Linked DNA regions of Homo sapiens. The protein of the gene in region 2 purifies or fractionates together with the protein of the main gene of each other region. This does not show direct contact. Each region holds a gene or a part of one and is shown on either strand. Other genes may lie near its edges.

What was found. The genes of interacting proteins can lie anywhere in the genome.
Region 1: the proteins of SLC25A18 (region 2) and CEP164 purify together in Homo sapiens (affinity purification with mass spectrometry; one large-scale study listed by BioGRID and IntAct). This does not show direct contact.
Region 3: the proteins of SLC25A18 (region 2) and DMXL1 purify together in Homo sapiens (affinity purification with mass spectrometry; one large-scale study listed by BioGRID and IntAct). This does not show direct contact.
Region 4: the proteins of SLC25A18 (region 2) and ANGEL1 purify together in Homo sapiens (affinity purification with mass spectrometry; one large-scale study listed by BioGRID and IntAct). This does not show direct contact.

Annotation. Positions count from the first base shown.
Region 1 is NC_000011.10:117,330,854-117,334,353, reverse strand, and holds part of CEP164 (centrosomal protein of 164 kDa), read right to left. Parts: intron 1-3,500. UniProt on the Homo sapiens protein: Plays a role in microtubule organization and/or maintenance for the formation of primary cilia (PC), a microtubule-based structure that protrudes from the surface of epithelial cells. Plays a critical role in G2/M checkpoint and nuclear divisions.
Region 2 is NC_000022.11:17,580,498-17,583,997, forward strand, and holds part of SLC25A18 (mitochondrial glutamate carrier 2), read left to right. Parts: intron 1-539; coding exon 540-662; intron 663-836; exon of another isoform or gene 837-860; coding exon 861-916; exon of another isoform or gene 917-1,051; intron 1,052-2,065; coding exon 2,066-2,156; intron 2,157-2,918; coding exon 2,919-3,037; intron 3,038-3,500. UniProt on the Homo sapiens protein: Responsible for the transport of glutamate from the cytosol into the mitochondrial matrix with the concomitant import of a proton (symport system).
Region 3 is NC_000005.10:119,069,728-119,073,886, forward strand, and holds the start of DMXL1 (dmX-like protein 1), read left to right. Parts: upstream 1-1,359; 5' UTR 1,360-1,842; coding exon 1,843-1,929; intron 1,930-4,159.
Region 4 is NC_000014.9:76,792,383-76,795,882, reverse strand, and holds part of ANGEL1 (protein angel homolog 1), read left to right. Parts: intron 1-3,500.

The sequences.
Region 1 (3,500 bases), on a different chromosome or scaffold from region 2:
GATGTGGGCAAGGACAGGTCCAAAAGGCCAATGAGTTAAAGAAAAAAGGAACGTGGGAACAGAAGTCATATCTATTTGTCTGTATGTAGTAGCAGGATGGCTACTAAAGATCATCTACTCACTCGAGGAATATTTATTGGGCACCTACCACGTGCATTTATTTCTAGGCGCTAGAGATGCAATCGTGATTAAAAACAGATTCAGCTGCTGCTACTCTTGAGCTCGTCTGGGAAGGGAGGGAGACAAACCAATCAGTCACAGAGAAATGTATAATTAGAACCGAGGGAAGTGCTCTGAAGGAAATAAGCCTGATTTAGATGATGCCTACACTGAGAACTGAATGATGAGTAGGTATTCACTAGACAAAGAAAAAAAGGAAAGCGTGTTCTAACAGATGCATGCAAAAGTCCTTCAGCAGAAGGCAACACGAGGCAAGAAGCAGCACAGTTGGATAGGATGCTGGGGAGGCCAGTGGGAGCCAGGCCATGCAGACTTGCCCTTTATCATAACAGAACTAGGGCTGGGCACAGTGGCTCACACCTGCAATCTCAGCACTTTGGGAGGCCAAAGCAGGAGGATCGCTTGAGCCCAGGAGTTCAAGACCACCGTGAGCAACATAAGACGACCCTGTCTTACCCTGTACAAAAAAAATTAAAAATTAGCCAGGTATGGTGGTGTATACCTGTAGTCCCAGCTACAGGGGAGACTGAGGCGGGAGGATCACTTGAGCCCAGGTGGTCAAGGCTGCAGTGAGCCTTGATTGTGCCACCACACTCCAGGCTCAGTGACAGAGCAAGACCCTGTCTCAAAAAAGAGAGAGGAATGGAAGCCAGGAAATAGTTTTTCCAGATACACATTTTGAAAAACTACTCCAGAAGCTACTAGGAGTACACCCTAAAGCGGAGGCCAGATTGGAAAGAAGAAAATCAGGGCTGATGCAGAGAAATAAGGTAGAAAACCATGAGCTAGGCTAGGTAAGAGGCAATGGTAACCTGAGTTGGAGTGGTAACAGAGGATGAGAAGTCTAAGAATGCAGCCCTTGGGCCAAGCACTGTGGCTCACACCTGTAATAACAGGGCTTTGGGAGGCTAAAGCAGGAGGATCACTTGAAGCCAGGAGTTTGAGACTAGCTGGGTCAACATAGTGAGACCGTCTCTACAAAAAATTAAAAATATCAGCCATGCATGGTGACACACACCTGTAGTCCCAGCTACTTGGGGGGCTCAGGTGGGAGGATCCCTTGAGCCCAGGAGTTCAAGGCTACAGTGAGCTATGATAACACCACTGCACTCCAGCCTGGGTGACAGGGCAAGACCTGTCTCTAAAATAAATCAATAAATGAGAATGCAGCCCTTAGATCTGCCATGGCAAACAAATAGGACATGTCCTACTATTTTCCTCCAGGCCTAAAACTGTGAAGGACATCACTAGTCAATTATGGCACCCTAGACATGGCCTCAGAACCCTCAACATTGTTCACTACGTAGCAGTTACCAATAGATGAGATGAAATCCAGTGAGATCTACTTGCTGCCTAGCCTGAGACCTTCTGTGAGCCAGAGTTAGGAGGGGTCACCCAACTGCACTCATGCATCTCCTACCAATCTCAGAATCAGGCAAAAAAGGAGTGGCTCACACGTTTCCTCCAGGAAGCCTTCCCAGCCAATTTTATCCTCTCCTGTCAACCCAGAACCACCTTAGCACTGAGCTCATAATTTTCATGTGTTCCCAGACAGATTTCTCTCAATATTATTATTTTTTCTTTCTTTCTTTTTGAGACAGAGGAGTTTCGCTCTTGTTGCCCAGGCTGGAGTGCAATGGTGCGATCTCGGCTCACTGCAACCTCCGCCTCCTGGGTTCAAGCGATTCTCCTGCCTCAGCCTCCTGAGTAGCTGGGATTACAGGTATGTGCCACCACGCCTGGCTAATTCTGTATTTTTTTAGTGGAGATGCAGTTTCTCCATGTTGGTCAGGCTGGTCTCGACCTCCTATCCTCAGGTGATCCACCCGCCTCGGCCTCCCAAAGTGCTGGGATTACAGGCGTGAGCCACCGTGCCTGGCCAATATTACTTTTTTTATGAAAATGTGTCTTCTTACCTCTCCTGTTAAACCACAAACTTCTGAGGGCCATGTCTCCTCCTCTGGAATTTTCCAACAAAGCCTAAAATAAGCCTATGTAAGCTGTCGGAGCTCAGTTACTGCTGTAACTGCTAATATAAAACCAAGGAATAGGCCGGGTGTTGTGGCTCACACCGGTAATCCCAATACTATGGGGGACCAAGGCCTAGGATCACTTGAGCCTAGAAGCTCAAGACCAGCCTGAGCAATATAGTAAGACCCTGTCTCCACAAATATATATATATATATATATATTAGCCAGGCATGGTGGCGTGCACCTGTGGTCCCAGCTACTCGGAAGGCTGAGGCAGGAGCTATGTGATCAGATGGAAAGGAAGACAGAGTTACATAAAGAGTGTAAAGTGGGGAGGCAGAGGTGGGAGGATCACTTGAGACCAGGAGTTCGAGGCTGCAGTGAGCTATGATTGTACCACCATACTCCAGCCTGGGCAACAGAGTGAGACCCTATCTGAAAAAAAAAAAAAATACACCAGCAATCTCAGAAGCTAGGAAGACCCGCAGTAGTTTTGGTCCACCTTCCTTCCCATGCCAAAATTTTCCTCTCTGTGCTTCCAGTGACAGGCGGCATAGTGGTCAAAGTACCAGCTTTGGAGACAGAAGACCTGGATTCAAATCCCAGCTCTCTCACTTAGCAGCTGTATGACCTTAGGCAAGGTGCTTCACCTCTCTCAGCCTCAATAACTGCATGTGTATAATTAAAACAATCTTAACAAAAATCAAAAAGCCTGAAAGTAAAATGAAACAACACTTATAAAGTGCCTAGCACAGTCCCTGTATACAGAAAAGTTACACAAATTTAGCTAGTATTACAGATTCTATTTTCAATTCCATAGTTAGATAATTCTTAACTATTAGAAGGTCTAATAGTAAGCCAATAATCAGGTTCTAAAAAAATGTTCCCTGGTATCTCAAGTCTGCCTTCTGCTCATCTGGGGACACCCTAGGATTCTCTAGCTAAGGTAGGCTAAGTATTCCCAGTTCTCTTCCATTCAGTACATATCGTTTCCCAGTCCTTCAATATTGTGGCTACCTTGCCCTGTACTTTGTCAGCATAGCTAGAGTTTTGCACATCTGCACACTAACAGAGAATATACACTCACAGACATAATGAGGGTTCTCTGTATATTTATTTCTTCCACCCTGCTCCAACAATTACAAAGAAGGTTGACCACAGAAAAGATTGACTGGAGAAGGTAAAGGGGAGAAGGTGGAAGATGTCAGAGTTGATTACGCAGTGGTAATGAGCAAAAGCTTTGGAACATTCTTGGCTTTCAATCCCAGCTCTGCCTCTTACTAGCTGGACAGCCTCAGTTTTCTCATCTATAAAATGAGAGTACTAACAATATCCATCACAATGTGTTG
Region 2 (3,500 bases):
GAAGCCTTCACTGTGGGAAGTGCCTGCTCTCTTATTATGAACAATAGCTGGCATTCCCCCCCAGGCACGGTTTCCATAGTCCTCAGCAACCCTGGAGTGAGTTCGACGGGAATGCAGGCCCAGAGAGGAGAGGTCACAGTCAGGATGCAAACTCAGTTCTGCCTGACCTTCAGTCCGTTTGTGTGAGAACTGCACACGTGGCTCCAGGCCTGCGGAGGAGCCAGAGGACGGGCCGGGGAAGCTTGGGGCAGAGCGGTGCCCTGGTGGCGGCCCATGGGGGCAGAGCTGGGCTCCTCCCAGAAGCCCCTGCAGGTCCCAGCTCCAGGGACTTCCCGGGTTGCAGCAAGATGCCTCACCCGGGTGAGTGCGGCTGTCCTGTCTGGACCAGACCTGGGCCAGGGAGGCTGAAGAGGGTCTCTGGACACCTGTGGGGCTGGGGTTCCCCACTGTCTGTGCCCCTGCCCATTCCTGGCTGCATCCGCTCCCTAACCTGCCCCTCCCTCTGCCTCTCTCCTCCCCCTGTCCTCCCCCTGTCCTAGCATCACAGCCAAACTCATCAATGGAGGTGTAGCAGGGCTCGTGGGGGTGACCTGCGTGTTCCCCATCGACTTGGCCAAGACTCGCCTGCAGAACCAGCATGGGAAAGCCATGTACAAAGGAATGTAGGTGCTGGCAGGCGAGCGTGGAGGGCAGAGGCGCCCGGGGGAGGGATGGGGCCCCCTTCCCTCCAGTCTCCAGGCAGCGCGCGTGAGCCTGGGGGCTGGGGATCTGATCAGCTGGGATGTGCCCGCGGGAGCAGGGCATGGAGGCGGCTGGGAGGCCCGCTGCACACTTACTCCTACTCTGGCCTCTGCTTCCAGGATCGACTGCCTGATGAAGACGGCTCGGGCGGAGGGCTTCTTCGGCATGTACCGAGGTGGGCTTCTCAGGTCCCCTGGGAGGCTGGGCAGCAGGTGTGAGCGTATGGGACATGGGGAACTGGTGTTCCTTCCGTTGCTGCGGGGATGGGGCCAGGGCTGCCAGGGGGTCCTTCCTGATGAGCCTCTGTGCTCTTGGGTGGAGACAGAGGCAGCTCTGGGTCCTGGTAAGGCTTCCGGAGACCCACAGAGCACACCCCCCGCCACCGCCTCAGTAAGAGCAGGCGAGCCCTCCCTACCTGCCTGCCTCTCTCTGCCTGGCTAGAAGCGAAGAGAGAGAGGCTGAAAGGGACTGAGGGACGGGGCCTGAGCTCCTGGCAAGGAGTTCTGGGTGGCTCCTCCCCAGCTCGGTCCAGCGTTGCTGCGGTCCCTGCGGGGTCCCCAGCCAGGAGGTACCTTGGACAATGGATCCCAAGCTGGAGTTGAGCCGGAGCTCGTATGCTTGTGCCGCCGAGAAGCAAAACACAAACCCTAGACAGCCCCGAGCTAGCAGCCAATGGGACTGGCTTGTGCGGCACAGAGGAGCGGAACCCCAGTCCCTGCGCCTGGCGCCTGTCACTGGAACTGCTGTTTTATCATCAGCGACCCCACCAGCAGCAACAAAAATAAAATGGCTTCCTGATAACCAAACTGAGGAGTCCGTAAGAAAAAAATACGTAAAAAGGGGAGAATGTGGGGCCGGGCGCGGTGGCTCACGCCTGTAATCCCAGCACTTTGGGAGGCCGAGGCGGGCGGATCACGAGGTCAGGAGATCGAGACCATCCTGGCTAACACGGTGAAACCCCGTCTCTACTAAAAAATACAAAAAAAATTTAGCCGGGCGTGGTGGCGGGCGCCTGTAGTCCCAGCTACTAGGGAGGCCGAGGCAGGAGAATGGCGCGAACCCGGGAGGCGGAGCTTTCAGTGCGCCGAGATCGCGCCACTGCACTCCAGCCTGGGCGACAGAGCGAGACTCCATCTAAAAAAAAAGGAGAATGTGGTAGGGAGTGGGAATGGAAAGTTATTTCAGTGAATTAGGCTCAGGAGCCCCACCTGGCCCCAAAAATGCCCTTCACTCAGGGACTGGCCTGGCTAGGGCTGAAGGGCAGACCTGGGGCACTGTTATTTCTGGGATGGCCTTGACTCCCCATCTTGTCCTTCACTTCCAGGGGCTGCAGTGAACCTCACTCTGGTCACTCCAGAGAAGGCCATCAAGCTGGCGGCCAACGACTTTTTCCGGCGGCTGCTCATGGAAGATGGGTATGGCCAGGTGGGGTGGGGTTGGATCCTTCACTGTGTGTTTTTTGGGAGAGATGGCAGGAAGAAGATTTCAAATGTGCCTCAGTATACCTGCCTGCATGCATATAAATATGTGCACACATGGCTGAGGGCTGGTGTGTGTTTGGGCTGCTGGAGAGTGAAGGGAGAGAATGAGCTGGTATACTTTGGAAGTGTGACAGATAATATAGAGAACATATAGCATATACAGACAAATCCATCAACTAGCCAATAAATTTTTAAAAATCAGCCACCAAGCTGGCTGCAGTGGCTCATGCCTGTAATCCCAGCACTTTAGGAGGTTGAGGAAGGAGGATCGCTTGGGCCCAGGCGGTCGAGGTTGCAGTGAGCCATGTTGGCTCCACTGCACTTCGGCGTGGGTCACAGAGCGAGACCTCGTCTCAGGAAAAACAAATCAGCCCCCAAACACTTTCTAGCTCTCTCTGTGCCTCACATTGCCCAGTGATGTTCCTGAAGGGATCAAGGACAACGCCTGGTCTGGGTAGTTTTCTCTGTCACTGTTTTCAGCTTCCATGCGGTGCTACCTCCCTAGCAGGCTTTGTTTTAAACTTAGTCCCCTGTCCGTACAGAGACCACACCTAAGGGCTAGCTGATGACTTGACCAGCTGGGTGAGTGGCAGCCACGGGTGCCATCCAGGGAAAGTCCCCCTCTCACAAGAGGGCAGCTGCACCAGGGCAGGCCTGTGGCCTGCGGCTGAAGGAGCCTGACGCCTGTTCCCATAGGATGCAGCGGAACCTGAAGATGGAGATGCTTGCCGGGTGTGGGGCTGGGATGTGCCAGGTCGTGGTGACCTGTCCCATGGAAATGCTCAAGATTCAGCTGCAGGATGCTGGACGCCTGGGTGAGGCCTGTCCCCACCTCCTATGGGAACAGTAAAGGGCTGGGATTGGAACCAGGCACATCCCACATCCCAACCTCATTTGCTAGGCTGTGTGACCAGTCAACTTTCCAAGCAGGTAGAAGTTTTTGGCCAGGCATGGTGGCTCATGCCTGTAATCCCAGCACTTTGGGAGGCCGAGGCAGGTGGATCATTTGAGGTCAGGAGTTCGAGACCAGCCTGCCCAACATGGTAAAACCCCATCTCTTCTAAAGATACAAAAATTAGCCGGGCGTGGTGGTGCATGCCTATAATCCCAGCTACTCGGGAGGCTGAGGCAGGAGAATCACTTGAGCCTGGGAGGCAGAGGTTGCTGTGAGCTGAGATTGCACCACTGCACTCCAGCCTGGGCAACAGAGTGAGACTCTGTCTCAAAAAAAAAAAAGTCTTCATTTATGGTTACCCATTTCATCAATGCTGCCAGCTC
Region 3 (4,159 bases), on a different chromosome or scaffold from region 2:
ATTTTTTAATTTTTAGTAGAAACTGGGTTTCACAATGTTAGCCAGGCTGGTCTCGAACTCCCAACCTCAGGTGATCCCCCCGCCCCCACCTCGACTTACCAAAGTGCTGGGATTACAGGCGTGAGCCATCGTGCCTGGCCTATTGGAGAGTTTTGAGGGTTGTTTGTTTTGAGACGGGATCTCACTCTGTCACCCAGGCTGGAGTGCAACGGGGGTCTTGGCTCACTACAACCTCTGCCTCCCGGGTTCAAGTGATTCTCCTGCCTCAACCTCCCGAGTAGCTGGGATTACAGGTGGGAGCCACCACGCCCGGCTAATTTTTGTATTTTTAGTAGAGAAGGGGGTTTCACTATGTTGGCCAGGCTGGTCTCGAACTCCTGACCTCGTGATTCACCCTCCTCGGCCTCCCAAAGTTCTGGAATAATAGGCGTGAGTCACCGTGCCTGGCCTATTTGGAGAGTTTCTATACACATTCATGCAACATTTACAGAACACCCTGAATGGGTGGGACTGGTGCGGTGCTAGACATTAAGGACAGACTTGTGTCCTGTTCCTCTGTATTCCAAAGAGGCTTACGGTATACAGGGGGAGACATATAAACAGATGTTTGTCAATTATAATACAAAACTTGTGTCAAAATACAATGAGAGTTGAATCTCAGTTTGTAGCTGTGACTCTGATCATTCTGGAATTCCTAGGTTCTTTTCCAAAACAAACGCTCAATGCAGGGCTGGTGTGTTGTTATTACCAGCACTATTTCAAATCACGTGTTAAGATAACTTAGGCTAAGAAAATACCACTTTCCTACTTGTCAAGTGTTCGAGCCTTTCAAAAACCATCCCGTTTAGGGACTTGGAAACACGCGCAAGGCTGGAGAAACCATTAAGCTGCTAACGTAGACGTTTCAAGGGTCACATTTACTCAAGAGACACTCAGGTCGCCCGGGGGAGCGGTGCATATTGGGACTTGTAGTCCTACCAGAACCGAGGAAACTGCAACTCCCTTTAGGATGCACTTCTCCCCTTTAAATTTTCTGGCCCAACAGTTAGATGACGCCCTAACCTAAAGCACAACTTACCACATCTCACTCATTCTGGGTTCATCAGGCTTCTGCCAGGCTTATCAGGTTCAAGCTCAAACGCACGGCGTTCTCCTGTAGAAGCCTCAAAGAGATTGGCTTATTCTCGGTGGTGGGCGGAGCCCTAGGTGGACCGGGGGTCGGGATTGGCCAGTTTCTGACTAGAAGAGGCGTTTTTATGTTCACTTGCTGATACGCACGCTGTGGTAAAAAAGTGAATTCTTTACCACAGTAGCAGCTGCCCCGAGCGAAGTCTCGCGATATTTCGGCCGCAGGGATCCAGAGGCGCGTAGTGAGTGGCGGAGGACTGTGGGGGTGGCGGGCACCGGAGCCGGGAAGGGACAGGTCAGGCGGGGAGTGCGAGCGCGTACTGCTTGCGCCACTCGGGCTGGGTCAGGAGCGGCTGCCCGAGGTCCAGAGGAAGTGTGTGGACAGCGCGGCCTTCCTGGCCGGTGAGTCGGCCCCGGGTCGTGGCCGGTGAGGGGACCCTGAGCTTCACCTGGGCTAGCGCGGGGAGTGACAGGTGCGCGAAGGAGCGCGGCGCTCCGCCCTCTCGCCGACCCGCCCCCTCCGGGCCTCGCCCTCCGGGGCTCGGGATGAGTCGCGGGCCCCAGCTGAGCGGCTCCGGCTCCAGGCGCCTGTCGCTGCTTCTGCCGTCGCCACCGAAGAGCGGCCGCCGCCCCTGAGGGAAGGAGGGAGGGAAGCAGCCGCTGACCCGTGGCATGAGCTGGATGCGGTGTCCGTTGCAGGACTAGGGCGCCGACATGAACCTGCACCAGGTGCTGACCGGGGCTGTGAACCCTGGCGACCACTGCTTCTCCGTGGGCAGCATTGGCGACCAGCGCTTCACGGTGAGTGAGGGAGGCCCTCGCGTCGCCCGTGGCCCGGCCTTTGCCCGTCATTCTGGGCCGAGCTTGGCCCAGAACGACGGGCAGAGGCGCGAGGTCTTGTCTCCCCAGGGGGGTCCTTACCACCCAGAACCCAGCAGACCTGGCCCTTGAGAACTAAGGAAGCAAAACCATGTCGGTCAGTGAGGTACTGTATGGAGCCTGAACTCAAGTTAGAATATTTTGTAGGATTTTTAAAGTTTTTGGTCTGTCTGCCTTGGGCCAGGGTGCTTTGCCAAAGTCGTTTGTTCAAAAATCTTTGTTGAGTAACGAGTTGGGGGCTTTTTTATACCATTCTATAGGTTCAAATTGTCAAATTTAGGAATAGTGGAGATTGGTTTCATTTTGTATTCTAAGTTAAGGTCAAGTATCTTTGTAGTTAAAAAGTGGGTGTCTCAAAACAATTACCAATTGTTTGCCATCAACAACTAGCCTTGAGAACAGTGTTTTTCATTTATTTTCTTTTCTAATTCCCTGAGAAATAACTTCGGAAAGAAAAAAAAGCCTTTTCATTTTTAAAAATATTTCTTGGATATTTTACAATAACCTGGTAATCCCAGGTTAAGGTTGCTTAACTTGCTTTTCATTGGTCACATATTGACAAGAAGAGGGCACCAAATTTCGGGCTACTTGTCAGTATAGTGGCATTTTTCTACCTTAACTATAGGTTTTTTTTTAATAACAATTTCAAAATATAAGTCAGTAATTGCACATGATACTTTTATCTACATAAATTTATAATGCTAATGATTTTTGCTACAATTTGTGTAGATACCTCTTTAGTTGTGATTAAAAGTAAAACTTGTCACTGCCTGGGAATACTAAGTGCTGTAGGCTTTTTTCTTTAAAAAAAATAAAAGTAAAACTTAATTTTGTATAAGTGACACAAAGTAAACAACGTAACCAATGCCCCAGGTTTAGGAGTGTTAAATTTCTAATCTTTTTCTCTGCTTTTAATTTTTCTGTGGTCTTTGTTGGTCAGAATAAATAATACTCAGCATTTAAAATGGTGGAGGCATTTAATGCCTGAATTGTACTTTTAGAATTGTGCCAAGAAGCATTTTGTTTTCAAATAGAGACTGTACCTCCCCTTTAGATTGACTCATACACATCTTAATTATCGGGATTCCAATTCTAAATGTTTGCCCAGCCTGAATACTTGGGAAAAGAGTGAGCTCTGAGGGTCCCAGTGAGCAACTATAGTTTCCTTACACCTGGGCATTGCTCTCTGCTCTTGCTGCTTGAGAGGAAAGTAAACATCATCCTTAGAAGGTTTTCCTAGTGGGAAATTATAGGATAATATTGTTGCATTCTCTGTCATTTCCTAAATTTATATGAGTGCTTTCTCCAGTGTAAATTCTAAGAACTTTTGCTTTTTAAAAACTTTTGAAATGAGGTCTCCCTCTGTCACCTAGGCTGGAGTGCAGTGGCGGGATCACAGCTCACTGCAGCCTCGACCTCCCCGGCACAAGCCGTCCTTCCACCTTAGGCTCCTGAGGAGCTAGGACTACAGATTCTAATCACCACGGCTGGCTAAGTTTTCTATTTTTTGTAGAGAGGGGTCTCCTTATGTTGCCCAGGCTGGTCTTGACTTCCTGGGCTCAAGTGATCCTCCCACTTCAGCCTCCCAAAATGCTAGGATTAGAGGCGTGAGCCACCATGCCCAGCCCTAAGAATTTTTTCTAAGAAGGCATTCACAATCTATGTAAGCAGTGGTGTGAACTTCAAAGCATATGCAGTATGATGGCCTATTTATATACCTGGATGCATTCCTCTATAAAACCTTGGTGAATGTCTGTGTATTGTTTTTAAGGAGAGATCAGTTAATGTGCCGAGGAGGATTAGATAGATGGTCATCCTGTACCATCATGTAGCTTGTTGCTCAGTTCTGCTGAATTTTAAAGTTCATTTCCATTGAGTAGGATTTAATCTCCCACCAAGCCTACTGCAGATTTCTTCCAGGTCTCTGGAAGCATTCAGTAAATAAACTAAAAATAAATTTTTAAGTATAAAGAGAGTTCAGCTCTCTTTAGTTTTGATGGAATTTTAAGGATTTAACAGTCATGGTTTTCCTTTGCAGCCTGTTCATCCTTGACTCTTTAAGTTGCTTACGCTCATTATCCTGGACACTTATATACACCTTAAATTTTTCTCTCTTGAAATCGCCCTTTTTTCTTCTCTCATGTTAAAAGGC
Region 4 (3,500 bases), on a different chromosome or scaffold from region 2:
TGATTAAAGAAGCTCATTAGCTAACCTATGTAAGTGGGAAAAGAGCAGGAACAAGCATCCAGATGCAGCGGAATCAAGAATCACAAGGGTTTTTTGTTGTTTTTGCTCAACTAAGTGCAAAAGAAATGGAAAATTTGGATGGCATATAAATGTAATTTACTAAAACTGATTCCCATGGAGATTGTCTAAATAGACTAATGACCATGGGGTGAAAAGTAATAGGAAAAGTTCTCAGAGATACAGTCCCTCAGAAACACCAGGCTCAGATTGATAGGGAATGTCCTCAAACCTTTAAAAAACATATATTTCCATTATTGTTTAAATTGTTACAAAGCACAGAGAGAGAAAGGGGCCAGGTTATTTTTATGAAACAAGTATAATATTGACACTGACACCTGACAGTAAACACACAGAAAGAGAGAACTGCAGACTCTAATGTTCTCCACCTGTGAATATTGATGCAAAAAATTTTACATAGAAGATCAGGAAACAAAATCTAGCAGCATATTGAAAGACCAATATACCATAGACCAACTGAAGTTTAGTAGAAGTATAGGGATAGTTCAATATTGGGATATCTATTAATATAATTTTATATATATGTGAAATCTAAAATACATGAAACTTGTGCCATCCTCTGTATAGATGTTGAAGAGACATCTGTTAACATTCAACATCTATTCTTGATTCTTTTAAAATGAACCCTCTTAAGAAAAAAATGGATAATTTCCTACACCATTGAAATGTATTTATTTCAACTCCAAACAGCATCTTGATTAAAGAAAAAAACTCTAATAGCATTCCTGTTAAAGTTAGGAACAAGACAAGGACAAGACTATCATAATTTAACTGTGTTTGGAGATACCAGCCAACAGAATTAGAAGTAGAAAATAGAAATATAGCAAAATAGAAGGATAAAAATGGAAAGGAGGGGGTAAATTATTACTTGCTGATGATATTATTTTATAACTGGTAATCCAAGAGAATAAACTAAGCAGCATTAAGCATTAAGATAATTCTGGAAGGTAGATAGGTACAAAATTAATGTGCAGAACTTAGTAGTGTTCCTATATAGAAATACATGTTTATTAAAAGATATAATGAAAAAAATACACTGTGTAAGAGCAACAAAAAGAAAAAATATAGAAATAAATCTAACAGGAAGAATATAAGGCATATAAAAGGGCATTCCTTTCTTTTTTTTTTTTTTTTGAGATGGAGTCTCGCTCCGTTGCCCACGCTGGAGTGCAGTGGCATGATCTCGGCTCACTGCAACCTCTGCCTCCCATGTTCAAGCGATTCTTCTGCCTCAGCCTCCCGAGTAGCTGGGATTACAGGCACCCACCACCACGCCTGGCTGATTTTTTGTATTTTTAGTAGAGACGGGGTTTCACTGTATTAGCCAGGATGGTCTCGATCTCCTGACCTCATGATGCGTCCGCCCCAGCCTTCCAAAGTGCTGGGATTACAGGCGTGAGCCACTGCGCCTGGCCTAAAGGGGTATTTCATTTCATCTAAATTATCAGATATATTGGCGTGAAGTTGTTCGTAACATTCCCATATCCTTTTTTTTGAACAGCTTTATTGAGATGAAATTCACATGTCATAAAATCCACCCATTTTAAGTGTATAATTAATTGGCTTTTAGTATATTCCGGGTTGTGTGACCATCACCATGATCTAATTTTAGAACATTTTCATCACCCACAAACGAAACCTTACACCCATGAGTCACTTTCCATTTACTTCTCCCCTTGTCAAAAATCAATTGACCATAGATGTATGGATTTCTGGACTCTCAGTTCTGTTCCCTTCCTGTCTGTATCTGTCCTTATGCCAGAACCACACTGTCTTGGTTACTATAGTTTTGTATATAGTAGTCCGCCTTCTCAGTGATTTTGCCTTCTTTGGTTTCAGTTACCCCTGGTCAACTGAGGTTCAAAAACCTTAAGATACTTTGAGGGAGAGAGCGACCACATTCACATACCTTATTACAATATATTGTTATAATTTTTCTATTTTATTATTATTGTTAATCTTTTACTGTACATAATTTATAAAGTCAGCTTTATCATAGGTATGTTTAGGAAAAAAACAGTATATTTAGGATTTGGTAGTATCCATTGTTTCAGGCATCCGCTGGGGGACTCGGTATGTATCCCCCATGGATAAGATAGATTACTGTACTTTTGAAATAAGGACGAGTAAGTCCTCTGACTTTGTTGTTTTTAAGATGATTTTTGTCTCTTCTGGGTCTCTTGCATTCCCGTATGAAATTTAGGATCATCATATCCGTGTCTGCAAAAAAAGACAAAAAAAAAAAAACCAAAAAAACCAACCAGTTGGGATTTTGATAGGCATCTACAAATCTTTCCTTTCCTTTTTTCCTCCTCCTTTTTCTCCTCCTCTCCCCTTTCCTCCCTCTTCTTCCTTCTCCTCCCCTCCTCCTCCTCCTCCCCTCTCCTCTTTCCTTTTATCCCCTCTCCCCTCCTCTCCCCTCTCCTCTTTCCCCTCTCCTCTTTCTCCTCTCCTCTTTCCCGTCTCCCCTTTCCTTTCCTTCTTTCCTTTCTGTGACAAGGACTCAGTCTGTTGCCTAGGGAAGTATTGCCATTTTAACAATATTGTCTTATGGCCAATGAACATGGGCTGGTTTTCCTTATTTAGATCTTTAGTTTCTTTCCAAGTTTTGTAATTTTTAGTGTGCCTACACTTTTTATTAAATTTTTCCTAATTATTTCATTTTTGATGCTATTGTAGATGGAATTTTCTTTATTTCATATTTGGATTGTTCATTGCTAGTGTATAGAAGTATTTTTGTGTATTGATCGTGTACCTGCAATCTTGCTGAATTCATTTATTAGTTCTAATAGTTTCTTAGTGGATTTCTTAGGATTTTCTCTATATAAGATCATGTCATCTTACAAATAGAAATAGTATTCCTTCTACTCCAATCTGGATACCTTTTATTTCTTTTTCTTTCATAATTACTCTGACTAAAACTTTTGGTACAATGTCAAATAGAAGAGGTGAGAACAGACACCCTTTCCTTGTTCCTGATCTTAGGGGTAAAGCGTTCAGTCTTTCACCATTAAGTATGATATTAGCTGTGAGTTTTTCATAGATTCTCTTTATCAGATTGAGAAAGTTTTCTTCTATTCCTAGTTTTTTGAGTGTTTTTAACTCATGAAAGGGTGTTGGAGTGTGTCAAATGTTTTTCTTCTGTCTGTTTAGATAATCATGTGGCTTTTTTTTAAACTTAAGTATTCTATTGCGACATATCACATTATATGATTTTTCAGATGTTAAACCATGCTTACATTCCTAGGATAAATCTTATTTGGTCATAGTATATAATTTTATATTTTGCTGGATTTGGTTTGCTGATATTTTATTGAGGAATTTTGCATCTGTATTCATAAGGGATATTGGTCTATAGTTTTTGTTGTGACATTTTATCTAGTTTTGATGTCAGAGTAATGCCTCATAGAATGAGTTGAGAA